Regions from separate parts of the Homo sapiens genome. Here all the other regions are linked to region 1. Evidence: fine-mapped expression QTL. A gene starts in region 1. Each other region holds a variant in brackets. All regions are shown on one strand. Distances are between the middles of the regions.

Region 1 (8,107 bases):
ATATTTGTATTTTTGAGGATACAATTCAGTCCACAGCTGTAGGAAAGGAGAAAAGACAGCAGGAGGTGAATGTAGTAACTTGCCTAAGAGATGAGGGTATAAACTAAAGTAGTGACAATGCAGAGGAAGAGGAAAGACTGAGAAATAGTAATCATTCCTACTTGGGCTGGAATTATTAAACTGTTAAAAACCTTCCTAGGATATTCTTTTTCCTGAATTTGAAAATTATAGACTTTTTCGTGTAGTAACTCTATTTGCACACCAGTTTTTTGTTTTTTGTTTTGTTTTTTTGTTTGTTTTTTTTGTTTTTTGAGACAGAGTCTCTCTCTGTCGCCCAGGCTGGAGTGAAGTGGCCCGATCTCGGCTCACTGCAACCTCCATACCCCAGGTTCAAGCGATTCTCCTGCCTCATCCTCCTGAGTAGCTGGGATTACAGCTGCCCACCACCACGCCCAGCTAAGTTTTTGTATTTTTGGTAGAGACCGAGTTTCGCCATGTTGGCCAGGCTGGTCTCAAACTCCTGACCTCAGATGATCCACCTGCCTCAGCCTCCCAAAGTGCTAGGATTACAGGCATGAGCCACCACACTTGGCCAGTATTTTTGTTTTTAATGTAGATGAATTTTCAAAATCAAACTGAGAATAAAGGGATATAACATTTAACAAACAACCACAGAATTTATTAAACATACAACATTACAGAAACATTTTAATATGCCATTGATATGTAGTCTTCAAAACGTTTTAAAAACTGTGGTAATACTAAAAGTGAAACTCATAGAATTTCAGTATTTTAAAGGGATAATAAGGGACGTTAACCACAAAATACAAAGCATTTCACTTTTTATGTTTGTCTTTTAAGTTAAATATTAAAAATTTTATATTTAAAAAATGTTTATTATTTATACAGCACATTAATCATCGAGACCCCCCTGCCCCCACAGCTAAAGTCATTCTAGGTCAGAATGCACGGATACTGCTCTCAATACTAGTATGTATTACTCCCAGTGCACACATATTGATAATCAAGGCTTGAACAGTTTGTGCCCTGGCTTATTGCTGGCAACAGAGTAATTCAGTCCGGAGTACAGAACATGTACAAATGCATTTTCATCAATATCTGGCTCTGATACACCCAGTCTGAGCCACCAATATCTGGCTCAGGCACTTATGATAATGGCCCAAGACACTGCTCAGGATCTTAAGGTAAACAAGTTGTCACCTAATTCTGTCAGCCCAGCAATCAAAGCACATTTTTGAGAGGGAATGTTCTGACTTCCGTATCAGTCGTGATATTTCCGAATAATTCTATACTTGTCATAATGAAACACAAGCACGCTTTTGGTATTGGCCCTTCAAAACATTAAGAAACTGGTGGTACCAACATACCATTTTTGACATTGTTGTATTTTAACATTTTTTCTGCTTTTGAAAGGAATACACGCTCATCATTAAAATATTTTGAATAATAAAATGCACAAAGAACAAAAACATTGTCTAGAATCTTGCCACTCAGAGACAATCATGTCATAATATTCTCATGTATTTCCTTTCAGATTTTTAAAATTGTGGGCATTTGTAATTTTATAAGGTTTGTAACTTCCTTCTGAAAACTTGTGTATTCAGATGTCTATGTAAATATGAATCTGTATTATGCACCTTAAATGGCTGTGTAGTTTTCACATCTTATGTACTATGATTTAACTGACCAGTGTAAATTACAGTGATCAGTTACACTTATTTAGTGCTTACTCTATGCCAGGCACTGTAATAAGCGTTTTGCTTGTACTAATTCATTTGATCCTCACAACCCTATTATTCCTGTTTCTTACACATGAGGAAACTGAGACACCAAGAGGTGAAGCAATTTGTCCAATCACTCAATGTGGGACATTTAATGGCTGGCAATGCTTTGATCCTTTAGACAATGTTGCCATGTATACCTTTGTTCATGTTTTAAAAGAATGTCTTTAGGATTAATTTGCCGAAATGGAATTGCTGGGTCCTAAGGTTTTAAAAATTTTTTTACATGCTTCCAAATATTTCCCTTAGGAAGATTATACAGTATTTACACTTCATCCAACAGTATGTGAGTGTCTGACTCCTCACATCCCTGATTCTTTGCAATTTTTTTCTTTTTTTGAGACGGAGTTTCGCTCCCGGGTTCAAACGATTCCCAGCCTCAGCCTCCCGAATAGCTGGGATTACAAGCGCGCACCACCACGCCCGGCTAATTTTTTGTACTTTTAGTAGAGACGGGGTTTCACCATGGCCAGGCTGGTCTTGAACTCCTGACCTCAGGTGATCTGCCGGCCTCGGCCTCCCAGAGTGCTGGGATTACAGGCGTGAGCCACCGCGCCCGGCCGATTCTTTGTAATTTTTACCTAAATGACAAAACATTATCTAACTGCTACTTTAATTTGCACATTTCACTTTTAGAGGTGGGACTTCATTTTTAATGAATTTTTAAGCACTCTTTGATTACTATGTATTAATCCTGTGTTGACATGTCAATATTAGTTTCCACGCTACATTTGGAGATGCCGTAATTTGCGGGATAATTTCCATTTACGTACAAGATGTGCTTACTAAGTTTGTTCCAAGTGGGACGCAACATCTCTAGTAGATGCTCCTTAAAACTTCTCCATCACACAGAGAATAATTTTTATTGGTTAACTAAACTTATAAGTAAAATAAATAAACCAACATTTTGGGTTGCTAGGAATCACTCACTGATCAACTTTTAGCTCCAGTTTTTTTCTGTTTTCTTTTTTTTGCTCAGTCTAGGGAGGCTATCTTGGGCTGTGAAAGACATGTCACCAACCATCACAGCTGCTGAGTGATTGCACGGTTAGTCAGTAGGTGCCAACGCCCTGCTAGAAGAGCTGTCTGCAGATTCCAAAGCCGGGCGTTCAGGGACTCCCGGGAAGGAGCCAGCGTTACCTCAGCCTCTCCGAGGGACACGCGCGCCCTGAACACTCCCCTCTTGGGATTCAGGCCAATTCGTTCAGCTCCCATGACTTCATCCGAGCAAGTTTGTCACCTCACGCAGCTAATTAAACTGTTTACCTAGAAGATGATCCAAAGGAATTTCCATTTCCTTCCAGAGGGAATACAAGGTTATGATAACCGAGAGAGCGAGAGGAAAAAAGGCGCACAGCTCGACCCGAACTCAACCTGCTTTCTTTCTCCTGGCTCTCCCAGTCACTCCTGGGGTTGTTAGTAGGCTTCAGCACGCCTGAAGGACCCCGTCCTACGGAGACTCCTAGCCAAGGGAAAAGCAGAAAACACAAGAACTAATTCCACTCTTATGTGTGACTAATTAAAAGAGGAGTCAGGCAGAGGGGACTCCCTGTTCAGCCTTTACCGATGGGGCAGGCTCGGGGCAGCTTTGAGACAGGCAGCGCCAAGGTCGCCCAGATTCCCGACAAGCTCCGCGCGGGGGCTTCCTCGGCTCCTTGCTGTTGCCGCCGCCGCAGCTGCTGCCGCGGTTGGTGGGGTTGGGTGAGAGGAGGAGCTGTCGCGGACCCTGTAGAGTCGGTCTCTGTTGCTCTTTTTGCCTGAGGAGTCTTCCATCCTACGTCGAGCTCTGACTCCCGTGCTGTCGAGAGGGAGTCCCCGGGGACACCTCGGCACGCAGCGGAGATGCCTCTTTTTGCCACCAATCCCTTCGATCAGGATGTTGGTAAGTGTTTTTGCCTCTCCCTGCCCATTCCTCACCGGACTGCACGCTCACTCTGCCAGCCCCTGCCTGCATTCAGGACCCTCGGGCCAGGGCCAAGGAAGAGCTCGCTCTTCCCCTTTCCTGAGGCTCCCTCCTTCAGAGCTGGGAGGAGGTTGAGGGCTTGGCGCATCCTCTTTGAAAGAAATGGGACTCATCCTGTGAAATGGGCCTTGAGCTAGGACTGTAGGTTGCCAAAGAACTGCTGAATGGGTTGGTGTAAAGGGCCTGGGAGGAGCAGCTGGTGTAGCATCTGGTGCAGGGACTGTGCTTCTGGAAGAACAGCGAAGGGCTTAAGGCGTATGTTGGCTAGATTAGGATTGTAAACCCTGTACCAAAAGTGCTTGCCTAGACAAATAAATGTTGAGCGTCTGGAACTGGCAGAATGTTTTAGGTAAGGTTCCTTAGAGGATTTTAAAATCTTTTGTAACGGTAACTGAAGGAGGGAGCTCTGGTTAAGGGTAGACTCTCAAACATGTTAGGAGCGATGAAGATGAAATACTTGGCAACGACTGAAACCGAATTGAGGACCTGAGCCTTTGGGATGTCTCTCTTAGGCTAGGTCTCTGCACTTTAAAAGGTGTAAAGAAGTGTGGAAGAAGTTGTTGAATCTGGAAAGAGTTTGAAATGCTACATTTTTGTTGTTTTCTGAATCACTGGTATTAGGTACTGATGATGTCAATTCAATAGGTTTGCTTTTGGTTTTTAATTTTATTTTATTTTATTTTTTTCTGACTTGAAGATAATAATTATGGGAATTTGAGTTTCCGGGGAGAGAATTTTGGTTTAATTTGAACGCACGTAGGAACTACCTTGGCACACAAGTGTGGAATGAAAGCAAGCCAAATACCATTTCCAAATCCCTTATGGCAGAATGTAATCATTACTGTGAATAAGGACAACCTTATGAATTTACTTGTCTTTGTGTATTTTAATTATGAAAGGTGGATGTTGAATTTTTCTTTTTAAACTCTTCCTTAGAGCATGTCACTGAAACTTGGAAGTTTATATAAGAGTAGAAAAAAGTTCACTCCTTACCTCTGCCACTTCTCAGCTCACGGTGAAATCATAGGCAAGTTAAATTCTTTGAGTTCCAGTGTTCTTGTCTTTAAAGAGGGGAAAACACATCATTCCATTCTGCAGTTAAATAATATGTCTAGAGGGCCTGCTACAGTACCTTTATGTGGTTGGCACTTACTAGATGCTACCTTTTTTGTTCCACCTTAAATGAGTGTCCTGAATCTTAGCAGTGGACAGAACCTTGGAGATCACCGATTATACTTAATGAATTGGAAAATTGCATTTAATTTAATAAGCAGTTAGCACACACTACAGGACACAGCAGCTCAGTGACATAAGAGATACAGTGATGAGCAAGGCCTAGTTGCTGTTCTCAAGCAGTTTTACATCTCACTACATGAATCTCTAGGGGAAATACTTAAAACAGCTTCTTAATACTTGCTTCTTCTGTTTACAGCACCTTTGTCTAGTTTTCTTGGTCCTGTATAATTTAGCTAGCAACTACCCAATCACCTTTATATTCTACTGACTTTGTGAACACATATTTGCATTGGATTCAGGTAAATTTCTTAATGTCAAACCCGTTCCTAGTAGCTGTACCACCCAGTTCAAACACAGGCACCTTCTTGCCTTTATGCTTTTGTCCTACGCTTATGCTTTCTTTTATCTTTCAACATATCCTTGTGTGTTAAGGCCAACTCAGAATCCAACTTGTTACACCTGAGTCATTTCCTGATTACTGTAGCAAAGGGTTTCTCAGTAGCAACGTTATTGACGGTTTGGGCCAGGTAAATATCTTTGTCATAGGAGTTTGTCCTGTGCAATGTAGGGTGTTCAGCCTTATCCCTGGCCTTTATCCACTAGATGCCGGTGACACCCAGCCCCCACTCATGATTTTAGAAGTCTCAGGACATTGCTAAATGCCCCCTGGAAGGACAAAATACCTCCCAGTTGAGAACCGCTGCACTAGTCCACTCTAATTTCCACCTTCTTACAAAATCCTCTAACTTATTTTAGCATTTTTGCCTTTACCGAATTATTTAGCATTCAAGATAGTTTTATACTCCTTAATGAGAGGTTGCTACATAGGAGGTGTTTAATAATGTTTGTTGAGTTGAGAATGTGTCAGTTGAGCCTGCCAGACATTATACTTCTTCAGTGTAGCAACATTGTTTTGCTCCAGAAAAGCTTACTTTTTAAAGTTGCTCAGGTTTTGGTATTGGACCAATTCTCTTCTCACAATCCTTGTATTGAAATATTACAAAAGGTTTATCTAAGAAGACCCCTCAGAGATTCCCAGTACATAAGCCTTGCACAGAGTCCAGTAGACTCATATTATTTTTTAATAGTATAACATATAGAATACAGTGTATAGAATACACTTAACAATTTTTTCTTTCACCATATCTACCAATGAATATGTCATAACATTAAAGTAACTCATTTGATACAGTTATTTATCACTTAACACTCGTATACATTTGCACATCTTCAAAATTAATTGTCTTCAGTCTTAATCTGAGGCTGAATCAGAAATTCACTGACTGATTTATATAATATAACATTTTTTATAAAGAGACACAATGCTGGTGATAGCTTTTCCCTTGGAAGAAACACCGAAAGATGTTACTAGAATGTGAGCTCTGTGAGGACAGGGATTTTTGTTTGATTTTTTCACTGCCGTATCCCTAGCTGTAGACCAGTTTTTGGCATGCTGAAGAACTTTCAGTAAACATTTATGGAATAAATGAATCTCATTTTGGACATTATAATTCAAGAGCTGAATTTAGAAGAAACGTAAAGATAACTTATTTCATCAAGTTTGTATTTCAAAGTCTCTAGTGACTTCCACCTTGCCAAATCCAATGGTCACTTTCTAGTCCATTTCTTTTTTGATCTCTTAAGCATTCCTCTTTGATATACAGTATTTTATTCATGGGATTTCAGGACACCAAACTTTTTCTCATTTTCTACTTAGCTCCTTTTAAATTTTTTTGCTTCCCCTTTTTGCAACTTCTAAAAGTTGAGTGCCCTGCGGCTCAGTTCCGGAGCCTCTTCTCTCCTTCCACTTTTTTTTTTCCCTTAGAGTATTAGGAAGCAATTTAGCTTAGTGTTAAGAATTCAGACTGGGGCCACACTGCTTGGATTCAGTCCCAGGTTTGCTGCTTACCGGTAGTGTGATTTTTGGCCTAGTTGCTTAGATAATCTGTGTCTCAGTTTCCTTATCTTTAATATGGAATATAAGAGTAATAATAGTTCTTACCTCAGAGAGTTGTTAAGAGGGTTGAGTTAATATTTGTAAAGCACTTAGAAAAATTTCTGTACTTTTTATTAAGTAAGATTTTAAAAAGAACCTCATCTAATTTCTTAGCTTTAAATACCTAGCGTATTCTGGTGACTCCTGGATTTATGTTCTTACTCTCAGCCTCTTGCCTGAGCTCTCGACCTAGATATCCATCTCCTTACTGAGCATCTCCATTTGGATTCTGCTTAGAGTCTAAAAACAAACATTCAAAAACTCAATTCTTAGTTCTTTGCCCAAACCTGCTCATTCCTTCATCCTTGCCCTTCTCAGTAGACGACAACATGATTACTGTTTCCTGTCACTGAGCTCCAATGTCTAGGAGTATCACTGATTCTTCTTATTTCTTCACACTTCACATTCATCCTATCAGCAAGATATTTTGGCTGTACTTTAAAAATATATCCAGAATTTCATTGACAGGTGAAACTAGCTGGACTTCCTGGGTCAAGTGGGGACTTGGAGAACTTTTCGGTCTTACAAGGGGATTGTAAAATGCACCGATCAGTGCTCTGTAAAAACGCACCAATCAGTGCTCTGTAGCTAGCTGGAGGTTTGTAAAATGCACCAATCAGTGCTCTGTAGCTAGCTAGAGGTTTGTAAAATGGACCAATTAGCACTCTGTAAAATGAACCAATCAGCAGGACATGGGCGGGGACAAATAAGAGAATAAAAGCTGGGCACCCTAGCCAGCAGCAGCAACCGGCTCGGGTCCCCTTCCATGCTGTGGAAGCTTTGTTCTTTCACTCTGCACAATAAATCTTGGTGCTGCTCACTCTTTGGGTCCGTGCTACCTTTAAGAGCTGTAACACTCACCACAAAGGTCCGTGGCTTCATTCTTGACGTCAGCGAGACCACAAACCCACCAGAGGGAACAAACTCCGGACACATCATCACCTTTTTCTGTCTCACCATTCTTACCTTACTTCAGTCATTGTTATCTCTTATAGTCAGTGGCAAGAGCCTTCTGGTAGGTTTCTTTGTTACCACTCTTGCCTCTACAATCAGTTCTCATTTACAAAGGTCAGTGATCTTTTAAAAATGTTAGATAATGTCAGTTACCTG
Region 2 (8,107 bases), 72 kb after region 1:
CTTGTTTTACATTTTTAATACAAATGTAGGGGGAATTCTCAGCATCTTAGTACTTCTCTTCACATAGCTAACCTAGTGTCTTACAGTGGAAACGCATGTATTCCGTTGGAAACAGGAAGACAGGAAGTAGAGGCAGTGGATAAAGACAACCCTTTGAAGAATTTTTTTCTTTCTTTTTTTAATGGGAGCAGTGCACAAGTGCAGGGACTTGAGATGGGAGTACTGGCAGCGGAGCGGTGGGAGCGGTAGGGAAGCTCAGTACGTGAGGGGTGCAGCTGCAGAGAGTTGATCAGTGTGGTGTTGGAGCGTGTGCTTCCGTATTTTCAAGGAAATAAAAGAAATGAGGTTATGAGGCCTTCCCTTCCACTAGTCCTTTGGGACCGTTCTTGTCAAGAACCCTGGTGATGCCCATACTGCTAGACTCCCGGTCAGTTCACCATTCTCCTCCTCCTCCATTTGACAGTTCGTGATTCCCTCCTCTTTTCTGAAATGCTTTCTTCACTTGCTGGTGACCATTCTCTTTTCCCTTCTGCCTCACCGCCACTTCTTCTCAGCCTCATTTGCCTCTTGCCTCTTTATCTTCTGGACTTCAAGGTCCAGTGCACAGTAGATGGACTGCCTTTTTCTCTGTTTGCAGCCGCTCCCCAGGGGACCTCATGAAGCCCGGTGATTCTGAATGCCGTGGATCTGCCGAGGATTCCCAGATGCGTATTTCTCCTCCGTACTTCCCCACAGGACAGCAGGCTTGAATAGCTGATTGCCTATGCAGGACAACAGGCTTGAATAGCTGACTGCCTATGCATTCTCTTTGCTTGCCAGTTTTTTGGACATCAAACTTGACAGATCCAAGATTATTACTTTGATCTTCCCCACACCCCTCCCACCCCCGAGTCTACTATGGTCCCATCATAGTATTCTGAAAATCAGTGAATGGCCACTCTACCAGTTATTTCTACCAGTTTTTAGGTTCTAAACCTCAGGCATTCTGGACTCTTCTGTTCATTATCATATTTTGAAGGCATTATCTTCAAAATCTATCTAGACTCTGACCCTTTCTCCCATCTCCACCATTACTGCCGTGGCTCTTCTGCTGGTCGGCTCTCTCCTGGTGGATCGTAATAACCTGCAGTCAGCTATCCTGGTCCAGAGGGAGCCCGTTAAACCCTGTGGAATCTTATCACGCTTCTGCTCAGAACGAGCCAGTGTCTTTCTGTCTCACTCAGAGTGTAAGCTACAGTCCTTATTGTGGCCATCAGGTGCTGTGTGTTCTCCAGCCCCCTCCCCACCACCGCAGTCCTGCCGGTGATCTTAGCTGCTCTCCCCTCGGCACCCCCTGCGGCCCCCTCTGCCGCAGCACTCGTGGCCTGCTGTTCCTTGAACATGCTTGGTGTTTTCTCTCCTCAAAGGCTTCTTTCTGTTTACCTGAAATGTACTTTCCTAGGGAATCTATCTGGCTCACTCGCTTACTTTTTCCACATCTTTGCTTAAGTATTGCCTTATTGGAGAGGCACCCTACCATAAACTAGAATCCCTTGCCCCAGCTGCTCTTTGTCCTCCGTATTGGGCTTTGTTTTTGTTCTTACCAGTTAGAACCACTTGACACACGATACATGTGTTTGTTACCCTTTTCTACCACTAGAACAGACGCTCCATGGTGGTATAGACTTATTTCCGCAAACCACCCCCCCCAACTTTTTTTACACAATGGTTAAATAACACACATATTTTTAATGCAATGCCTGATATCACAAAGCCTAAAATAACAATGTTTGGCACATTATAGCTGTTTAGTAAAAGGTTATTAAATGAATTGACTATATGAATGAATGCTTAGTAAATAGCTTTTCCATTTATCTGTAGTTGCTCTATAAATCAGTATTGATGTAATTGAGTGTTTTTCTTCCTCCACAGTACAATGGTCAGTTCCGTTCAAGGAAACACATATCCCAGCCAGGCGCCAGTATATAGTCCTCCTCCTGCCGCTACTGCTGCTGCTGCAACTGCCGATGTCACTCTGTACCAGAATGCAGGACCTAATATGCCCCAGGTGCCAAACTATAACTTAACATCATCAACTCTGCCTCAGCCCGGAGGCAGCCAACAGCCACCTCAGCCACAGCAACCATATTCTCAGAAGGCTCTGCTATAGGACCCGGTGTTCCTCTTGGTGGCAGATACCTGCTAAATGCCACTGACAATGTTATGAGATTCATTACTATCTTAAGATGTGTTTATCCTCAGCTTATAGGAATCTCTCCAGGTCAACAGGTTCAAATATTCAAGAAGGTAGAACTCTCCTCAATTTACACTGACTTTTTAGAGGTTCTTCCCCCCCCGCCCCTGCAGAGGAATGAAACTACTTACAACATTTAATTCCTTTCATAATATGAAAGAATTGATACAAGGCTATTTGTCTCGTAAACCTGGTCTGCAGAAAGTCAAACTTACAAAAACTGTTGTGACAAATGTTATGTACATATATTGATATGTAACTGCATTAGTGGCCATTTTGAATCACAGTGGTGATCGTGTGAATATATTTAACACTGTGTTAAATTAATTTACGTTGCTATTTTATTTTAATCATAAACAACTACCATGTTTCTTAATGTTTTGTGTAAATTTAAGGTAATTATACTATCCTTTTAAACTTCAAGAAAACAAAGTTGTTAGCGTATTTACATGAAGGCGCATTATGTTGTCGTGTGTTTCAGTTTCACATTAAACTGAACCTTTTACTAATTGTGAGCTAAAGAGATATATATATATATGTGTGTGTATATATATATATCTACATGTCTTTCTGTAGCCTCTGCATACTACTGGCTGTCATCACACCAGCGTACAGTAGCTAAATTTTTGGTGCAATTATAGCAAATGATAATGTTCCCTTTTGAACTTTTACATTTTGGCATGACATTTCAGAGTATTGTGGGACCATGAGACAAAATTAAGTACGATCACATTCTTTATTTCTCATTTTAAAGAAATGATGTTGGTTTACCTTTTCCTAGTTGAAGATAGTAATTAGGTTTCTAAGCTGTATACTGTGTTTATTGGTGGCAGTGACACCAAAGATAGAGGCAATGGATAGAAATTTTTAAACTGGAAAGAAAACCTGAATTACACTACATTTTCGAAGTCTCTTGTAATTATTTGGGATATCAACAAAATTTGATTCGTCTGTCTAATCCCTTGCTAGTATTTTAAATATGTCTTTAACACATTGTATCCTTTAATTCTTCATTAAAATGGAAATAAGTAGATGTTTCAAAGTAATCTACATTCCTGGCTTTGCTTAACGTTTATATAGGTATTGTTTTCTTTCA[C/A]ACTGGATTTTTGGGTTGCTCTTTCTGGCCTTTTAAAATTCTAATGGAATTATTTTGGCTTCTTACTTGGGAATATTTTCAAATGAATGCTTTTCTTTTAATTCATGCGAAAAATGTTTTCCACTGACATTGTAATCTTAAATATTTACGATTTCCCTGGTTGGGCTATACTATTATTTTAGCACTATTTAAACAACGGAAAAGTTGAGTCGAACATCATATTTAATGAATTGATGTAACAGGTTTCATACTATAAATGAAAATTTCATTTTTATTTTCTAAGACTGTTGTAATCAGGTAGCTTGTTTATTTTCTTTTTGAGAGAAGATTAAATCTTTAGCCAGTAATCTTAAGGGTGACTAATTTCACAGACTCAGATTTAAAGCACCGTAGTTTTAAATCTGAGCCTGTGAAATTAGTCACCTGTAAGATTACTTAAGGGTAACTTAAGTGTTTCGCTCAAGTGTTGTGTTCTGATTTCCTGTGTTTAAAATATGTTGCCCTGCCCTGAAGTCAAATTTCACATTTTAAATACTATAAGTTAGTTTTTGATAAATATCTGTCGGATTATAATCTTTTCCACTCCAATTTGAGTATTATGGTTTAACTGATATACTTTTCTGCAATTTTTCTTTGTCTTTTGATAAATTCCTGTTTACCAATGTTAAATGTATCATTTTCCCATTTTAATTTTGATATCTTTCATGCTGAAAATCAATGACATAGTCTCTACTATGATTTTTGCCCTATAAAAGTCAAGTAACAGTGAATAGAAAAAACTACCCTTATTACAACCCATATACATTTTTCTTTACCTTTTACATTACTAGCCTTATAAAGGTTTAAATGATGAGTACTTTAAAACTGTTACTGTGTTAGTTTATGCCTTCCCATTATTAAAAATGAAAATACCAGGGGGAAAAAATCCAATGAAAGTGAAGCACTGGCTTGTCTTTCAAATGACAAGACGAGGGTAGAAATAGGAGGGGGCCAGTTAGGATCATGAATGACTTTAAGTTCTGAAACCTGCAGGTCTTGCACTTTCAAGAAATCTTTCATTAATAGCTGTCCTTATTTTGAAGGAATAGAATAATTTATAAAATGAACTAGCTGTAACATAGGCTGGACGCAGTGGGTCACACCTGTAATCCCAGCACTTTGGGAGGCCGTGGCGGGCGGATCATTTGAGGTCAGGAGTTCGAGACCAGTCTGACCAACATGGTGAAACCCCGTCTTTACAAAACTACAAAAATTAGCTGGGCGTGGTGGCAGGCACCTGGTAATCCCAGCTACTCAGGAGGCTGAGGCGAGAGAATTGCTTGAACCTGGGAGACGGAGGTTGCAGTGAGACGAGATCACGCCACTGCATTCCAGCCTGGGAGACAGAGTGAGAAATAAATAACTGTAATGTAAACTGCTGTGAAGCAAATTCTATTTCTCTTTTTTTAAAAAATAAAATTTGAGATTGGTTTTCCGTAAAATAGTGACACGTAAATGGAAAAAATCTAATCCAGTTACGAACTAGCATATATAGCCAACAGGCCCATGGCCTGTGATGTTATACCAGTGCCCTGAACCTGTAAGAGGATTTCTAATGCATACCTAATGTGACTTTACAGCCTCTTCTAACTCCGTCTTTCTCCTTCACTGTTACCTATCTTCCCTATGCAGCGAGGGAACTTTTTATGTGCCTAAGATTCCTTTTTTCATGTACTTCTGGTGCTTTGTTTCTATACCTCATAGTTTTTGTATTTAAAATGCTTAATAGACCAGTGTCTTTTTTCTCTGATACATACAGCTTTCCTATGCGATATGTATAATTCAGTTTGAAGACATGTTTTTTCCGAAGCTTCAAGTTGATGTGAGACAAATTAGCACCCTACACGATAAACTATGCAACTATAAAAATTATGGAAATTGCCCATGCCTGTGTCCTGAATGGTAATGCCTAGGTTTTCTTCTAAGGTTCTTATGGTTTTAGGTCTAACGTTTAAGTCTTTAATCCATCTTGAATTAATTTTTGTATAAGGTATAAGGAAGGGATCCAGTTTCAGCTTTCTACATATGGCTAGCCAGTTTTCCCGGCACCATTTATTAAATAGGGAATCCTTTCCCCATTGCTTGTTTTTCTCAGGTTTGTCAAAGATCAGATAGTTGTAGATATGCGACATTATTTCTGGGGGCTCTGTTCTGTTCCATTGATCTGTATCTCTGTTTTGGTACCAGTACCATGCTGCTTTGGTTACTGTAGCCTTGTAGTATAGTTTGAAGTCAGGTAGCGTGATGCCTCCAGCTTTGTTCTTTTGGCTTAGTATTGACTTGGCGATGCGGGCTCTTTTTTGGTTCCATATAAACTTTAAAGTAGTTTTTTCCAATTCTGTGAAGAAAGTCATTGGTAGCTTGATGGGGATGGCATTGAATCTATAAATTACCTTGGGCAGTATGGCCATTTTCACGATATTGATTCTTCCTACCCATGAGCTTGGAATGTTCTTCCATTTCTTTGTATCCTCTTTTATTTCCTTGAGCAGTGGTTTGTAGTTCTCCTTGAAGAGGTCCTTCACATCCCTTGTAAGTTGGATTCCTAGGTATTTTATTCTCTTTGAAGCAATTGTGAATGGGAGTTCACTCATGATTTGGCTCTCCGTTTGTCTGTTATTGGTGTATAAGAATGCTTGTAATTTTTGTACACTGATTTTGTATCCTGAGACTTTGCTGAAGTTGCTTATCAGCTTAAGGAGATTTTGGGCTGAGACAATGGGGTTTTCTAGATATACAATCATGCCATCTGCAAACAGGGACAATTTGACTTCTTCTTTTCCTAATTGAATACCCTTTATTTCCTTCTCCTGCCTAATTGCTCTGGCCAGAACTTCCAACACTATGTTGAATAGGAGTGATGAGAGAGGGCATCCCTGTCTTGTGCCTGTTTTCAAAGGGAATGCTTCCAGTTTTTGCCCATTCAGTATGATATTAGCTGTGGGTTTGTCATAGATAGCTCTTATTATTTTGAGATACTTCCCATCGATACCTAATTTATTGAGAGTTTTTAGCATGAAGGGTTGTTGAATTTTGTCAAAGGCCTTTTCTGCATCTATTGAGATAATCATGTGGTTTTTGTCTTTGGTTCTGTTTATATGCTGGATTACATTTATTGATTTGCATATATTGAACCAGCCTTGCATCCCAGGGATGAAGCCCACTTGATCATGGTGGATAAGCTTTTTGATGTGCTGCCGGATTCGGTTTGCCAGTATTTTATTGAGGATTTTTGCATTAATGTTCATCAAGGATATTGGTCTAAAATTCTCTTTTTTTGGTTGTGTCTCTGCCAGTCTTTGGTATCAGGATGATGCTGGCCTCATAAAATGAGTTAGGGAGGATTTCCTCTTTTTCTATTGATTGGAGTAGTTTCAGAAGGAATGGTACCAGTTTCTCCTTGTACCTCGGGTAGAATTCGGCTGTGAATCCATCTGGTCCTGGACTCTTTTTGGTTGGTAAGCTATTGATTATTGCCAGAATTTCAGAGCCTGTTACTGGTTTATTCAGAGATTCAACTTCTTCCTGGTTTAGTCTTGGGAGGGTGTATGTGTTGAGGAATTTATCCATTTCTTCTAGATTTTCTAGTTTATTTGCGTAGAGGTGTTTGTAGTATTCTCTGATGGTAGTTTGTATTTCTGTGGGATTGGTGGTGATATCCCCTTTATCATTTTTTATTGCATCTATTTGATTCTTCTCTCTTTCCTTCTTTATTAGTCTTGCTAGTGGTCTATCAATTTGGTTGATCCATTCAAAAAACCAGCTCCTAGATTCATTAATTTTTTGAAGGGTTTTTTGTGTCTCTATTTCCTTGAGTTCTCCTCTGATTTTAGTTATTTCTTGCCTTCTGCTAGCTTTTGAATGTGTTTGCTCTTGCTTTTCTAGTTCTTTTAATTGTGATGTTAGGGTGTCAATTTTGGATCTTTCCTGCTTTCTCTTGTGGGCTTTTAGTGCTATCAATTTCCCTCTACACACTGGTTTGAATGTGTCCCAGAGATTCTGGTACGTTGTGTCTTTGTTCTCGTTGGTTCCAAAGAACATCTTTATTTCTGCCTTCATTTCGTTATGTACCCAGTAGTCATTCAGGAGCAGGTTGTTCAGTTTCTATGTAGTTGAGCGGTTTTGAGTGAGTTTCTTAATCCTGAGTTCTAGTTTGATTGCACCGTGGTCTGAGAGACAGTTTGTTATAATTTCTGTTCTTTTACATTTGGCGAGGAGAGCTTTACTTCCAAGTATGTGGTCAATTTTGGAATAGGTTTGGTGTGGTGCTGAAAAAAATGTATATTCTGTTGATTTGGGGTGGAGGGTTCTGTAGATGTCTATTAGGTCCGCTTGGTGCAGAGCTGAGTTCAATTCCTGGTTATCCTTGTTAACTTTCTGTCTCGTTGATCTGTCTAATGTTGACAGTGGGGTGTTAAAGTCTCCCATTATTAATGTGTGGGAGTCTAAGTCTCTTTGTAGGTCACTCAGGACTTGCTTTATGAATCTGGGTGCTCCTGTATTGGGTGCATATATATTTAGGATAGTTAGCTCTTCTTGTTGAATTGATCCCTTTACCATTATGTAATGGCCTTCTTTGTCTCTTTTGATCTTTGTTGGTTGAAAGTCTGTTTTATCAGAGACTAGGATTGCAACCCCTGCCTTTTTTTGTTTTCCATTTGCTTGGTAGATCTTCCTCCATCCTTTTATTTTGAGCCTATGTGTGTCTCTGCACGTGAGATGGGTTTCCTGAATACAGC
Region 3 (8,107 bases), 89 kb after region 1:
ACACATTTAGATTCAAATAATTATTTTATGTGTTTTGCTTAAAATGCTTAAAATCTGTGGGAAATTAAATGCCCTGTAAACCCGGTAAGAAAACACAAAACACATAAAGCCTGTGAGAAATTATATGCCCTACAATCCTGCCTCTCCCAAAAAAACAGGGAAAGAAAAGAAAATTAAGGATAAACATCACTTTTTGAGATAAGTGGTCACAGCCATTATGTCCTTAATTTATTTTTGTTTATTAACTGTTGATGGTTTGGTCTTCATTTGCTTAAGTGTTTACACTATTTTTAAGATACACTAACTGCCTTCTTAAGTTTTACATTTCATAGCACTAAATATGTCAGGCATTTATTTAAATATTTAAGTACCTTTAGAAATCAGAAAACTTGAATCCAGGACTTTTTACAAGTTCATTTTGATATCAACATGTAAACTTACTGAAAAATGAACAATAAGGAAACAGCAATGAGCCCACTCTAGTGTTAAAATTTAATTGTTACACTATGTTAGAAGATCTTTTGCACAAGTCTTCCCTCATTTACGTGTTCCACAAGCTCATTTGTAACATAGTAAGTTCTAGGAAACATTTTAGAACAATGCTGAATTTGGTGACTGGGATGCCGGGCTGGGGTCCAAACCCCATTTAATCTATGATATAACCAGAATGTAGCGTAGTGTTACTGGTATGTCTGGCTCATACCCCGTGAGTGCTTTGTAGGAAGGCACACCAAGTCCAAGGGAGACTGCCAGGGGCACATCTCCTGGTAGCCATCCGTGGGTTCTGAGGCTCCTCCACCTCCCCAGAAGCGGTGGGGCTTCTCATCGCTACCCTCAGAATACCTCGTCTAGGCCAGTATGCTGTCATCCTTTTTTGGGAGTCCCAGAGATAAATCTACCTGCCTTCTTTCCACTTTGACAGCTTTACCTGATCCATGGAAAGACTAAAGACAATTTCTCAGCTCCTCCTGTTCTCTCCCTGAAGCAACTCTTTGTGGTTTTCCAGTGGATTGAAGGCTGAACTGTAACGGATAGAGGCCCTAGGCAGGCTGATTTGATACCTGTTTATCATGATAATCCTTAAATTTGTTTTTTTTTTTTTTTTTTTCTGAGAGGCTACACCTTGTATATCCACCTGAGGAATCCGAAGCCCAACACCCATCCTTAGAGGCAGCTGAGCAACCAGTTACTGGAGCAGGGCCCTTGGTGGGGAGGGGGACAGGGGAAAGGAAGGTGGTCATTTTCCTCGCCTCTAAATGCCTCATTAAACAATCTTTTCATTGTAATGCTCTCCCAGGGTTTCAAAGTCAACGTTCATTTCATTATGATTTCCATTTCCTTATGATTCCATCAGTTTTATGGCATGTTTTATCTTAATTCTGCTGTAGGAAGCACCAAGGTAAACTAGGTAAACGTTTGCCCTGTCTTGCTTTTCATTCTTAACTGGGGGAAGATGCAAATATAGAAAAGAATGAGTATAACTAATCAGGAAAATATATTCTGTTTTCTTCTGGACATTTATGAGTTGGGAAAGATCCTGATGAGAAAAGAGATCTTCTGCTTTCCTGCTTCCCTGTCAAACTGTCCCTTGAGTGAAATAGGAAGCAAGGATAGGTGGGATGGCATGGGGCAGGCTGGGGAAGAGGAACGCCCACTGCCCAGGAGAGGCCTTGGTCCTGGGGGATTCTCCCTGTGTGTGGTCATTTCTTAAAGACTGCAGTGCTGTAGCTCCCCAAAACTTTCAGGAAATAAGATCACTCTGTGTGATTCAAATTGACAAAATAGTAGAGAAGGAACCAAAGTAGGAGATGGGTACCTTAAAGCTGAGGTTAAACTCTGCTGGCTTAGCCAGATCAGTCTGACATGTTTTATTTGGCCTGCAGAGAGTTAAAAAATGTTTTTTGAATAGATGATATTTTATGTCTACGTGATTTCCCACCAAAAATACAGACTTTTGGCTCCTTGAAAAATCCCAGATCTAGGCCGGGCGCGGTGGCTCACGCCTGTAATCCCAGCACTTTAGGAGGCCTAGGTGGGCAGATCACGAGGTCAGGAGATCGAGACCATCCTGGCAAACACGGTGAAACCCCCTCTCTACTAAAACTACAAAAAATTAGCCGGGCATGGTGACTGGCACCTGTAGTCACAGCTACTCGGGAGGCTGAGGCAGGAGAATGGCATGAACCCGGGGGGCGGAGCTTGCAGTGAGCCGAGATAGCGCCACTGCACTCCAGCCTGGGCGACAGAGTGAGACTGTCTCAAAAAAAAGAAAAGAAAAGAAAAGAAAAATCCCAGATCTAACAACGTGAGGCCTGTGTTCCCACAACTATCCATGCTGTCTCCAGTTTGCTACTGAGCCCTCCCAACTGTTGGGGAGAATCAGAGATGGACTCTTATTGAAGCAGTAAAGAGACATTTATTATTATTTTTTTGAGATGGAGTTTCGCTCTTGTTGCCCAGGCTGGAGTGCAATGGCACCATCTCGGCTCACTGCAACTTCTGCCTCCCGGGTTCAAGCGATTCTCCTGCCTGAGCCTCCTGAGTAGCTGGGATTACAGGCATGTGCCACCACGTCCAGCTAATTTTGTATTTTTACTAGAGGTGGGGTTTCTCCATGTTCGACAGGCTGGCCTCAAACTCCCAACCTCAGGTGATCCGCCTGCCTCAGCCTCCCAAAGTGTTGGGATTACAGGCGTGGGCCACTACGCCCGGCCTGAGAGATTTTATACAGAAACTATTGCAATAGGGAAAAGAGACTTGCGTCCAGAACTGGGCTCAGTGGAATACAGTAAAGACAGATGGGGACTTACAGCCAAGGGTGGAGGGGAGTAGTTCATGGTTGGAAAATCACTAAGAGGAGACCTCGGGGATAGAGAGGATTCTTGCTAAGAGCAGGCCAGGGTGATCAGATAGCCAGGGTGGAGGACGAGGGATTTGATGAGATCTCAAGGCAGGAGGGCTTCTCTCTAAACTGACCTAGCAGGATTCTTGCTAAAACTGGGCTGTGCAGGCCTGGCAAGGACGGTGGCCAAGATCGAAGCCTGAGAAGAGGTTTAGGAGGTCAAGGAGATCATCTTGTCACCACTCTTTTGCCTGACCCAGGGGATATTTGAAGCATTGCCTCCTGCTTTAAAGAGAGGGTGGATCTAAGACCTCACTGTTCATTTGGACTGTTGAGCACTTGGAATGGGCTGGTGCAATTGAGGGACTGAATTTTAAATCTGATTTCATTTGAATTAATTTAAACTTAAAAACCAGCAGTGTAAGCTATTTCATAAGCTGTTTTGGTGGGACTATATTTCATGGTAACCATTGCATCCATAGAATAGTATGGTAGTGTATGTATTTTTCACTGTTTTTTAATATGGGTGCTAGAAAATTTAACATTCCACACATGGTTGATGTTCTGTTTCTCCTGGACAGTACTGGACTGTGGCTTCTAGGACCTGGTCATGATTCTAAAGAATGTGTCTGTGGCAGACAGACTCTGGAGTGTGTCCCCATGAGCCCTTCCTTGTGACGTTCAGACCCTTATTTAATTCCCTTTCTTTGAGTATGGGCAGGACATGTGTCTTGCTGAAAACCAATAGACTATGGCAAATGCGATGGGCCATCACTCCTTGCTGACATTACGTCATGCTTTTGCCGGCAGGCTGAGCTTGGAAGCAGACCCTTCCCAAGACGAGCCTCCAGAGGAGAACCCAGCCCTGGCCAACACTTTGATCGCAGCCTTGAAGAGGACTCAGCTAAGCCCTGTCCAGATTCCTGGCCCACAGAAACTGTGAGATAATCAGTGTAGGTGGTTTTAAGCCACTAAATGTGTAGTAATTTGTTATGCAGCAATAGAAAACACGTGGCCCGGAAGGGTTGGGGCACATGGAGAACTATGGAAATCCAGCAAAAGGACGGTGCAGGATGGGAGGAGGGTGAGGACCGAAAAACTACCCATTAGATACTGTGCTCACCACCCAGGTGATGAAATAATGTACACCAAACCCCTGACACAATTTACTCATGTAACAAAACTGCATATGTACTCCCAAACCTAAAATAGTTGGGAGGAAGGCTGGGCATGGTGGCTCACGCCTGGAATCCCAGCAGTTTGGCAGGCCGAAGCGGGAGGATCACCTGAGGCCAGGAGTTCAAGACCAGCTTGGCCAACATGGTGAAACCCCGACACTACTAAAAATACAAAAATTAGCCGGGTGCAGTGGTGCACACCTGTAATCCCAGCTACTCGGGAGGCTAAGGCAGGAGAATCTCTTGAACTC[A/G]GGAGGTGGACGTTGCAGTGAGCCAAGATCACACCACTGTACTCCAGCATGAGTGACAGAGCAAGACTCCATCTCAAAACAAAACAAAAAAATGTTGGGAGGTGATAAAAAGGTAATCTAGCCAAAGGGAAATCTGCTGATGAGAGTGAATCTTAGTTGGTGTCACTTAAGTATCCTGGTCCCGTGAATAAGCTGTTTCTCAGATGCTGACTGATGCGGCTTTGGTGCTGATTAGCTGACTGTCCTTGGTGATGATTACTTTCATCCTACGTTGGTCTGCTTCAGGGAGAGGAAGTTCAGGTCCATCTGATTTTTGAAGGTAGACTCATTGTTTGTGAGAGTTAAGTGGCTGAGTCCAGGCCACTGGGGCATGGTTGAAGTTGGCCTTATCCTACTGCTTGCAGTGTGTTGGTGGTAGTTTTAATTAAATGTGCCATGGAACAGATTGGGCCCCAGCCTCTGTCAGACAGATTAATCATAGTGGCTGACGGATCGGCGTATGCATGGAAAAATTTGCCAAAAACTTAATGATGTAGAAGCGAAAGGTAGAAATGGTTGGGAGATAATCCTCCATAGTTCTTGCACATCTTGCAAGCAGAGAAAATGACAGTGCTTTTTCTAGGCCGTCTTTTCCAGGATATTTGTATGGCACACAACCTTGGGAGATACACATAGCGTCTCCTTCTGGAGCAAGGGACAGGTTTGTTTACATCCTTGGAAGATGGAGTTAGTGTCTCTCTTTAGAGCAAAGCGCAGGCAGGCTGACCGTGATGAAAGACTGAGAGATGGAGCTCAGGGCTCCTGTTTTGTTCTGCAGCTCACTGCCTTTGCCCTTGTCACTTGCCCTTCTTATCTTCCCTGTGCTTGAGGAACTGGCACAGGAAATGATACTCTGGCTCCTGCTAACGCTGTGAGTAGCGTAGTTCTTTGTCTTGGAGCCATGCCTCTGTGCCTTCTGTCAGCATTCCGGGAACTGTGGCCGGCTGACTTTTCAGCTTGCCTTCATAGGTCTTGACAGTTGTGTTGGATAGTAATAATAAAGTCAAAAAGTCGTTTCTTGTGGAACAAAAGTTAATCCACTTATGACTAAACCTTTCCCAGAATAGGGGTGGAAGCCCATGTTTTTTCATTCCCTAGGGTCAGGGGCAGGGATTTTTGTTTTGTCGGATAAAATTATTCCCATTGATTTATAAAATATGTGTATCAACAAGCAGATCTTCCTAGGAGTGAGCTGATCACACCTTTCGCAGCGGCTTACTGAATTCACCTTTTCTAGGCCTCAGTCTTATCTCTAAAATGAGAAAATTGGCTGGCTATGGTGGCTCGTGCCTGTAATCGCAGCACTTTGGGAGGCTGAGGCGGTGGATCGCCTGAGGTCAGGAGTTCAAGACCAGCCTGGCCAATGTGGTGAAACCCTGCCTATACTAAAAAAAAAAAAAAAAAAAAAATACAGAAATTAGCCAGGCATGGTGGTGCGTGCCTATAATCCCAGCTATTCAGGAGGCTGAGGCAGAAGAATTGCTTGAACCTGGGCGGCGAAGGTTGCAGTGAGCCAAGATCATGCCATTGCACTCCAGCCTGGGCAACAAGAGTGAAACTCCATCTCAAAAATAAATAAATAAATAAATATTTAAATAAATAAAATAAAATGAAAAAATTATATCTCTCTTAAAGGCCCTTCCAGCTACAGTGGCTCCAGGTGATGTGAAAAATACCATCCCTTTATTTATTCAACATGCTCTTATCTTGTCCTTACTATGGGACAGGCACCAGTCTAAGTGCTTTTCAAATAACTCATTGAAACTAGGATGATACTAATAACCCCCTGCCATAGGTGAGGAGACTGAGGCACAGAGAGATTAATTATTTGCCCAAGTTCATCCAGCAGGTGGCATAGCTGGGGTACAAACCTAGGCAACCTTTGTGCTTGTGTCCGCCATGGTGTGCTGTCTCCCATCTTGTCACTGAACAATTGATTCAGTCTCTGCTGTGTGGGAAGCCCCTCCTGAGAATGCTGGAGGCCACAGGGGAGAATGAATCAGGTCCTTGTTCTCCAGGGTCTTGCACTAATGGAGAATTTTGTATTTTTCTCTCTCCATGTGTGTGTGCGTGTCCCACAGGAGGACTCCAGATTAAGCATTTGCATGTAAGAATGTCTCATTAGAATGTGGAAGTCTACATTAAGTGTAGGTTAAAGAATTGGTTCCAGGTTTTTAGTTTGCTTATTTAAGATTGTTTAAATAAACCTTAGCGTTCTAACCTGATGGTAGTAAACTAGGTCAGACTTCTGCGGGGAACTATAGAGACATACTTGGTCCAAAGTTCTACCTATTCAATACCTAAGATTAATAAAATTGTGTATAGAAATTTAAGTAGTTATGCTGAATCACATCCCTTAAAAATGGTTTTTGTCAACCCTAATCCCCTTCATGTGTGTAAATTTAAGCTTCTCGCAGAAAATAATGGAATCTTTATTATCTGCTATTACACCAGGAGCAATCATTTTTGCAATATTCACTTTATAAATGTTGAGTGGGTGGCCAGTTCCACTTCACCGTATGCAAGCTGGGTCTCCAGAGCCCTGGAGAATCACACTCAGGAGCTTCAGGGGACAGGCTTTTCTGAAAGAACTACTTACTGAAGGCCAAGGGAACAGACACCCTCAACTGTCACCACCCTGGGCCCAAAGGAGCAAGCGTTCAGCGGCAAGTGTGTACAGTGATTGCTGGGCCTAGGAGGAGGGATGGACTGACAGAGCTGAAACTGGCACAGTGAGTGGGAAAGAGGGACAAGGGAATCAACACCCTCGCTTCTCCTGCTGCCCTTTGGCCTCCTGCCAGTCCTCTCACTGGCCAAACCCAACTCGAATACAGAGTGATGGGGAAATATTGAGGACAGGGAGAGAAGTGGAGGAGAGCCAGCATGCTGGAGACATACTCAATTGAAGCAGGCATTGTCTAGCTCACCACCTGCAAAAACATTAAATTTTTCCTCTGGCAGTTATATTACCATGCCTATTATTTTATGAAAACCCAAAACATGTTCTAGGTTCTTTCGAGTTAATTTGCTGTGTACATTGCTAAGAATTTACATAAAGTACTGAATTTAAATTATCAGTAGGTGGCGCTGCTGAGATTGACTCTTGAAAAATCCAAATTAGCCATTTAACGGAAGATGATCTAGACTTCAGACAGATTATTTGGGAAAAAACATAACGCTGCAGGACAGTTCATTTATGATTCACTGTTTTCTCATGACATCTGGAATGCACCGATTTTTACAATTTTATTTCCTTAATATGTGGACCATTCTGGGTTTTCTCAACAATTAAAGAGCAGGGGCTGATGTTTCTCCGCAGAATTAGAAGGATGGTCATGCTATAGGCCGTATGCTAGACAAGGGGTAGCTGTTGCCTTTATGTCTTAATTTTCTGTTAGAGATTCACATAATGAATTATAATGTGGATCAAGATTTTTAAAATGGTTCAATTTGAATTTTCCGGAGAAGAGAATTAGATGCAGGGAACTTCAGAGCCACGTCTTCTGAAAGCATCAGAAGTGAGCCCCTGAGGGGCCATTTTCCTAGCAACCCTCAAGAAATAGAGTACTGCAGGCCTTTACCAATAGAAATAGGCCCATAAAAATCCGGGAGTTGTGAAATGTTTAACCTGACATATGGATTTTAAAGATGCCCAAGTCCTCTATTTTCCAAACGACATCAGAGGGGTACTTGGTAAAATACAGATTCCCAGGCCTTTTGCCTGCAGATTCTGATTGAGTCAATCTGGGATGGGACTGGAAAGCTATAATTAGCAGGTGCCTCCCCACCCCCGCAGG
Region 4 (8,107 bases), 43 kb after region 1:
CAGTTTCATGGAGTTTTTCACCTGTGCATGCGTGGGTTTTTCAGAAGGTCTTCACTGATACTTGGAAAGTGCCTCTAGGCAGAAAGTTGAGGCAAACTTCTGGCTTATCTAATTCATTTTCCTTCTTGGATATTATCATTCAGTACTGCCTGTGGCCTCATGTCTTTAAAAAGTTAACCTCAGTGTGGAAAATCTGTTTTTCCAGTTTTCTAATTGTTTACAACGGGAGTGTAAGTCTGGTCTGTTTTTCCACCCTGGCTGGAAGTGGAAGTCATGGCCTACCATTTTATTTTCAAACCTTTTTTTTTTTCCTACCCAGAATTAGCCTGAAATGCCTCATCTACGATTACTAATAAGAGAGCCTGTTAATTTTGTTTGAAAAATTTAAAGGAACTAGTTTACAGTTTTTCAACCGTGTTATTAATAAAAATTAAATTTCCCTACTTTATCATAGTCTCCCTTTTTATCGTAGTCTTTTGTCTATAACAGTTAAGGGGCAGGGGGAAGCTAGATGTATTATTAAGTAATTTTTACTTTTCTCATTTTTTTAGACCTAAGGATTGTCTTCGGTCTATTATGAGAAGAGTGAACCACAAAGATCCTCACGTTGCTATGCAGGCTTTGACTGTGAGTGGTTTCATTTTAATCTGTACCACGAAATTACCTGCCACAATTGAGCCCCTTTAACTTCTGATTTTGTGCTTTTAGCTTCTAGGAGCATGTGTATCAAACTGTGGCAAAATTTTTCATTTAGAAGTATGTTCAAGAGATTTTGCTAGTGAAGTAAGCAACGTATTAAATAAGGTAAGGAGCATTATTTCCAGAAATTAATTAAGGCAGTCTTCTTTCTTCACATATTTTATTGTTTAAATCTTCACAGAGGACTATTCTGTGCTTTTTAAGAAATCCTTTCTAGGCTGTGTCTATCCAGTATATAAATAAATATTATGTTTTGTTGAAGAGACTGCGGATTCATGTAACTTTGAGTTAGTTTTTTCAAGCCATATTAGAGTGTTTTTAACCTGTTCTTTTCCATCATACTTTCATCTGATAAGAAAACAGGTATTTCTATATCTAATTAAATAATATCAGTCTATTTTACATACTGTTTTTGTAGGCACAAGGTATTTTCCTAATGGAAAACCTTTCAGAAACACTGCAAAAAGTCTATGGCACCGTTGAGTTTTTATCTTTATCAATAAGGCTGCTTCCTGGCCATCACAGGATTTTAATACTATACTGCTATTCTTACTGGCTGAACCCACAGCTGGAGTTGCCTCAAAAGTGGTGGCGGGGGAGTTTCCACAAGGGACTGCCCCAAACTGTTCCAGATAGGGCCAGATGAGAGTCCAAAAAAAGAGGCACTAAATGCCAGGGTGATCAGTCTAAAGGATTTATTAGGGGAACTTACACAGGAGGGCTGCAGTTTATAGGAGGGTTTAAGGAATTTGGCTCAGGGTTGGGGCTGGTTTCTGTGTGTTTAGCAACATACTTGATCTTTTAGTGTTTTGGGCCACAACCTGAACAACTTTATCAGTGCCTGAGAATGTTCAAGGCCCCAGTTTGGGTCCAAACCTATGGTGGAAAACATGCAGCTGGCTAGGTCACAGAGCGGGACAAGGCACTCTGTTTTTCTATTGGGACACAGAAAGAAAGCAGGGAGAACTGGGGACCCTACAACTGCCCACTCAACTGTAGAATTCTAGTCACACAGTTCAAGAAATTTTTCAATTTTCAATTAGTAATATGTGAGTTTCCCCAGTAAAAATTTGTGCATTCTAAAAGTAATTATTTTTGGCCTTTTTAGGGGGAGTACTGTAAATCAAGAAAAAGTTTTTGTATGTTAAAAGGGAAAATGCCTCATGTTTTTGGGAAAAATGAATAGTTCCAGGTTACAGTAGAAAAATAGCAGTATAGAAATATAGTAAGAATGTAAAATTCTGTACTTTTCGAACATCATGGTTAAATGATAATTCTTTCCCTTTCCTGCTTTATGCAGTTAATATTTATTTTCTACTAATTAATAAACATTGTCTTTTAATGTCCTGAATGTCCATCGAGATTACAACTGTTTATGAAGAGATTCTAATACCATGTTTTTTGTAATGTAGGTGAAAAATGTGGTATACTTACCTATGTATAATAGTGCAAGCAGCCATTTCCAAAAACGACTTCCTATAGGCAAGAGGACTTCTCTTTATTTTCTGAATGTTTTACAGTGAACATATTGGTTTTGTACTTAATAACATCCCGCCTTTTTTTTTTTTTTTTGAGACAGTGTCTCTCTTTGTCACCCAGGCTGGAGTACAGTGGCGTGATCTCAGCTGACTATAGCCTCTGCCTCCCGGGTTCAAGTGATTCTCCTGCCTCAGCCTCCTGAGTAGCTGGGAATACAGGCATGCGCCACCACGCCTGGCTGGTTTTTGTAGTGTTAGCAGAGATGGGGTTTCACCATGGGGATGGTCAGGCCAGTCTCGAACTCCTGACCTTGTGATTGCCCACCTCGGCCTTCCAAAGTGCTGGGATTACAGGCATGAGCCACCGCGCCCAGCCAACATCCTGCCCTTTTAAAAAATTTCCTTTTATTAAACAAATTAAGTTCATGTATAGTCTCAATAAAGCGTTTGCAAATCCATTATATGCTCCTTGACCAAAATACAGATTACATGTGCACTTAGAAAGAATTTTTTTTCTTCTAATAGAGTAATCTAAAAGTCTAACCTTCTCCATTTTTAAAAGCTTTAGCCAATTATTTAGTAAGCATTGGTTTGAAATACATTCATGACATTTCATAGAGGAGTTATTTCTTCTCTGGTATCTGTGAAGGTTTCTTTATATCTATTACATCAAATAGTAAGACTTCAAATTATTGCCGCTATGAAGATACATCAGTATTTTAATGAACTGGCCAGGTTTTTTCCCTTAATAAGCAATGAGTAAAATAATTTATTTTGAAAACTCACTACATTTATCTCTTTCTTTAATACGGAAGAATAATGCCCTGCACACCTGCCTTAGACTAACTTGAATCTTTGTTATACATCAACCATAAAGAGTTATGTTATTTTGGGCTGGGCACGGTGGCTCATGCCTGTAATCGCAGCACTTTGGGAGGCTGAGGCGGGCGAATCAGTTGGGGTCAGGAGTTCAAGACCAGCCTGGCCAACATGGTAAAACCCCGCGTCTGCTAAAAGTACAAAAATTAGCTGGGCATGGTGGTGCGCGCCTGTAATCCTACTCGGGAGGTTGACACAAGAGAATCGCTTGAACCGCATCCCCCACCCCCCTCTGGGAGGCGGAGGTTGCAGTGTGCTGAGATCGAGCCACTGCAGTCCGGCTTCTGCCACAGGGTGAGACTCTGTCTCAAAAAACAAAC[CA/C]AAAAAAAAGAAAAGAAAAGAAAGGAAAAAAAGTTATGTTATTTTGAAGAAATTAAATTTTCAAAATGATTAACATGCAGTGTACCTCAAACTAGGCCCCAGATAATTAAGCATCATGGAAAAAATGCATAGTCATGAACATTAAGAAGTCAGGAATTTGGAATAAAGGAACTGTATCATTTATTCTCTCCTTCCCACTTTTTTATTGCTTTGCAAAAAGCAGACACTTTTCCTTGTCTTACTGATGTACAAACCTTGCTTCGTTGCAAAATATTCTGAAAAGTCCTTTCAGATCTCCAAAATCTTATTACCTATTTAATGCTTTAATTTGAAGTGAGATATATATGATGGGTTTTTTCATAGTGTGAACATTAGTTTTATTTCGAATAACTATATTTTCTTGTCTATAGCTATGCATAACTTGTGATTCAAAAAACATCACTTAATAACTTTACTATTTAAAATGTCTGTATTAAATCATTGGCTAGGAAATTGGTGCTCTTTTATTTCTTTTTCTATTTTACAGGGTCATCCTAAAGTATGTGAAAAATTAAAGGCTCTTATGGTTGAATGGACAGATGAATTTAAGAATGATCCACAGCTTAGTCTAATATCAGCAATGATTAAGAACCTTAAGGAACAAGGAGTTACGTTCCCAGCTATTGGCTCTCAGGTATTTTGGGAATGAAGTTGTGTGTGTGCTACAGTTTGTTTCTCTTAAATAGCTATATTTATTTGAATTTTTTTCTTCATTCCCAGGTAATTTTTACTACTTCAGAGGAATTTTCGTTAGCTAATTGTGTTAGTAACTAGTTGTATTGCTAGTTAGTAATACTAGTTTTCTGGCATTCAGAGGTGCCAGAAAAGTATTATAATGGAATATTAATGTGCTCTAACCTCTCTACTTCTTTATAAACGAATTGGTTTAACATTTTGCAGTTTTTGAAATTTTTTGGTATAGTTTTTGTTTGTTTGTTTTTGAGACGGAGTCTTTGTTTGTCGCCCTGGGTAGAGTGCAGTAGCGTGATCTCGGCTCACTGCCACCTCTGCCTCCTGGGTTCAGGTGATTCTCCTGCCGCAGCCTCCTGAGTAGCTGGGACTACATGCACGTGCAGCCAGACCTGGAAATTTTTTTTTTTTTTAAATAGAGGTGGGTTTCACCATGTTGGCCAGGCTGGTTTCGAACTCCTGACCTCAGGTGTTCTGCCCGCCTCGGCCTCCCAAAGTGCTAGGATTACAGGTGTGAGCCACCAGGCCCAGCCAGTACAGTTTTAATAATATACACAAAATAGCTTTATTAATTAGGTAACACTGTCTTTTTAAATGCTCTTAATGCTATAATTTTCTACAAAGAATGATAGCTCAGAAATCAGGATATCCTTAAAAGTTAGGGATGACTTGAGAGATTCTTTTGTGGAGGAAATTTATGAATTCCTCTATTAACAATGAGAGGACTTTAGAAGGGGTAAATGGGAAGAGAAGCACCTGAAGCATTTTCTCCTTAGTAAGAGCCGACCAGTACATAAGTCTTCCTTTCCCCAGTGGATATGGCTAAATAGCTTAACTTTGCTCTCCTGTCCACCCTTGTGCCAAAAAAATTCAGTCTCTAATTTATGTCATGTAGAAAAAAATCAAGAAATGTCTTTTTTATTCCTATTTCTATTTTGGGTAACCTTCCTTTAGGATGCCCAACTAATCAAGAGGCTTAAAATATGTGCTGATTTACTACACTGTCTTTCCCCAGTTTATTGACTGGGACAGACTGTAATGAGTGATGTGAAACCATGAACAGAAATCTGTGAGTGTGGAGGGGCTTATGTTTTGACCACTTCAGGGAGTCATGTAGCTTATCTACATTCATCCAGACCTACATGTGCTTTCTTCCCAAGGCATTTCCAGTTTATCTGAGCACTCTTGAGATGTGAAGACTCAAAAATGTATCTGGGAGAGGAAGGAAGCAAAGGACATTCTTCTTCTTAAAAAAATTTTGGTTTAAAATTTTCTTAAAAAAATTATGTCTTTGAAAATTCATTCATTCATAACTGATAGCTGGTTTTTACTACTCAGTATAGTTTCTAGAATCTGTATAATTAAGGAAAAATCTTAAACAGAATAATCCAAGACATTATACATTCCTTGACAACAGAAACAATGTTTATTTATCAAAGAGTAGACTCACTGCAGAGAACCCACCTAGAATAGGTAGAGAAAATGCAAGCCCACTAAATATCTAGAGTCTTTGGTTCTTGTTAACTCAAAACTTGGTTTGACCAGCATCACTGGCATTACCTGGAGGCTTGTTAGAAATGCAGCATGGTTGAACCCACTCCAGACCTATGGGTTCATTATCTCCATTTTAACAAGATCTTCAGAGGATTTATATGCACGTTGAGGTCTGAGAAGCACTGCTGCTCTAGAGGACAGCCTTCAGTGCAAGTGAAAACTGCGTTTCAGTCCACAAAGGGACTTACTCTTGTAAGAAAAGGAAGAATTAATGATTGTGCCATATGTACCCTTGTTTGGTTAATCTAGAATCTTAGCCACGGAAACAGTTTTAGGGAGCCTCTAATCTAATCCGCTCATTTTTACAGATGAGGAAACTGAGACTCAGAATGGTTAAGTGACTTGCCCAGGGACACAGCTCATAGTTGACAGCTGGAACTAGAACACAGGCATGCTGATTCTCAGTCCAGTGTTCTTTTCGCTGCCCGAGTCTGCCTTCTTTGTTAGAGAGGTTAGTGAATATGTGTCTGTCTAGACCAGGCTTCCAGTGGAGTGAATGCTGGCAAGAGCATTATGTCTTGATTGGTAGAGAAACTAGCTTATTCTCTTGTTCAAGAAATTCAGGACATAGAAGAGCAATAGTAAAGATAGGACTTAATTTTCATCCTTTGATCTAGATGTTATAAAGTATGTAACAGCTAATCTTGTCATAGTGGCTATATTTCACCTACAAGAAATACATATAAAGTAAAATATGATGAGGTAGAATGATTTTTTTAGTGGTTTCTGAAAAGCTTATTAGAAACCCTACATGTAAAGAGCTTCACATTAAATGAAAAAAATAAATCATCTAAGTTCAACTGCAGAACTCCCTGTAGATTTTAAAGCCACTTAGTTACTTAAGTTATTACTGTGTTTTCATCAGACTAGATTTTTGTTAGGGCATACTTAACAAAAACCTCTGAAGATATATTTTTCTAAGTATATTTTTTTCATCTGAGTACAGAAGAAAATAATGTAAAAATATTAAGAAAAGTGATAAAGTCACCTGACTCATACTGATGCAGTTCTGTTAGCACTAACTTTTGATGTAAAGATAGAAGTAGGCTAGCAGCACCGCTACCGTAGTTGGCTGCTTAATAAGACAAGTGTTATTGTTACATTTAGAACCTGATGATAGAAAGGAACTTTGAATAAAAAGTGCAGTTCAGAAACATGCGGCTTCACATAGCTTATTTCTGCGCTTCTCTACTGGTAGAGATTTCTTCACACACCATAAAAGTTCAAATCTGTCTAATTGTGAAGTTTGCCAAATTGTGAACAAAAATTTATGTAAACCGTAAAACTTATTTCTGACCAGGCATACCTGTAGTTTTCAGAAGTGTCTGATAATTAAAACATTATCTAAAGAAAATTGCAACTAGAGATAGGTCAGAATTGAGAGTGTTTAAAGTTGTATTCTGTGAACACCAAAAAGTTTTTTTCTTCTCAGCTCTTCTAAAAATAAATGCCTGGCCGGGCGCGGTGGCTCACGCCTGTAATCCTAGCACTTTGGGAGGCCGAGGCGGGTGGGTCACGAGGTCAGGAGATCGAGACCATCCTGGCTAACATGGTGAAAACCTGTCTCTACTAAAAATACAAAAAATTAGCCAGGCGTAGTGGCAGGTGCCTGTAGTCCCAGCTACTCAGGAGGCTGAGGCAGGAGAATGGTGTGAACCCGGGAGGCGGAGCTTGCAGTGAGCCAAGATCTCGCCACTGTACTCCAGCCTGGGCGACAGAGCGAGACTCAAATAAATAAATAAATAAATAAATGCCTGTGCATTTGTTTGACAACACGAAATCCAGTTAAGTGAGGAATGTAGAACTGTATTTTATTATAATGTTGAATATTTTTCCTTTCATACCCTCAACAAACATTGATTGATTGCTTGTAATATTTAGGCACATTCCCTCAGGGAACATACAGTCTGGTTGTGGAGACAGACATGTAATCAGACAATTATAACAGAAGCTGAGATTATTGCCTGTTACAATGTTCCAGTCAGTGTTCTAAGTGCTGTACATGTGGCAATTTGAATGTGTTTTAGAATTTCATTTTTAAATTGTTTGCCCTGGGAATGACAATATACATTCATAACTTTTCATGATCTACTTTGAGTTAATATTTGATGTAAAATATAGCAACTTTGCATCTGTAGAGGTCTGTTTACACTGTAGTTGTCATGTGTATTACCTCTACATACGTTATAAGCCCCGGAGGTAATGTTACATACTTTTTGTTTTAAACCCTGAATGAGCCCATCTCATCTGATTTTGGAATCACATGTGTTAATTTAATACTTTAAATAGGCTGTGAGGTGCCCATGAGGTGTAGGTGCTATTATCGTAGTCATTTTATTGATGAGGAATTTGAGGCACCAAGAGGCTAATTTGCCCAGTGTCATCCAGCTAGAAAGTGGTAGATCTGGGATTTGAACTCATGTCTGTCTGACTCCACAACTTACATT

The links. PIP is the estimated chance that this variant, and not a neighbour inherited with it, causes the effect.
Region 2: its variant is the best candidate, but not a certain one, in a credible set for the expression of STAM in T cells (TOPMed, PIP 0.57).
Region 3: its variant is the best candidate, but not a certain one, in a credible set for the expression of STAM in lung (TOPMed, PIP 0.63).
Region 4: its variant is the best candidate, but not a certain one, in a credible set for the expression of STAM in whole blood (INTERVAL, PIP 0.52).

What each region holds. Positions count from the first base shown.
Region 1 is chr10:17,640,696-17,648,802 of GRCh38, forward strand. It overlaps STAM (signal transducing adaptor molecule), which reads left to right and starts at 3,456. Exons shown (of 14, transcript NM_003473.4): 1 at 3,456-3,684. The coding sequence starts at 3,645. STAM-DT (STAM divergent transcript) reads right to left here and starts at 3,223. Exons shown (of 1, transcript NR_110370.1): 1 at 589-3,223. RefSeq lists enhancers at 2,410-3,058, 3,059-3,708, 3,131-3,200, 3,351-3,470.
Region 2 is chr10:17,712,632-17,720,738 of GRCh38, forward strand. It overlaps STAM (signal transducing adaptor molecule), which reads left to right. Exons shown (of 14, transcript NM_003473.4): 14 at 1,912-4,193. The coding sequence ends at 2,149. Among named protein-coding and RNA genes, the nearest start is that of TMEM236, 36 kb to the right of the region's middle. The variant C/A (reference allele first, on the strand shown) is at 3,330.
Region 3 is chr10:17,730,183-17,738,289 of GRCh38, forward strand. No RefSeq gene overlaps it. Among named protein-coding and RNA genes, the nearest start is that of TMEM236, 18 kb to the right of the region's middle. RefSeq lists a silencer at 4,405-4,605. The variant A/G (reference allele first, on the strand shown) is at 4,272.
Region 4 is chr10:17,684,124-17,692,230 of GRCh38, forward strand. STAM (signal transducing adaptor molecule) reads left to right here. Exons shown (of 14, transcript NM_003473.4): 3 at 552-627; 4 at 709-804; 5 at 3,904-4,050. Among named protein-coding and RNA genes, the nearest start is that of STAM, 44 kb to the left of the region's middle. RefSeq lists an enhancer at 2,700-3,200. The variant CA/C (reference allele first, on the strand shown) is at 3,377.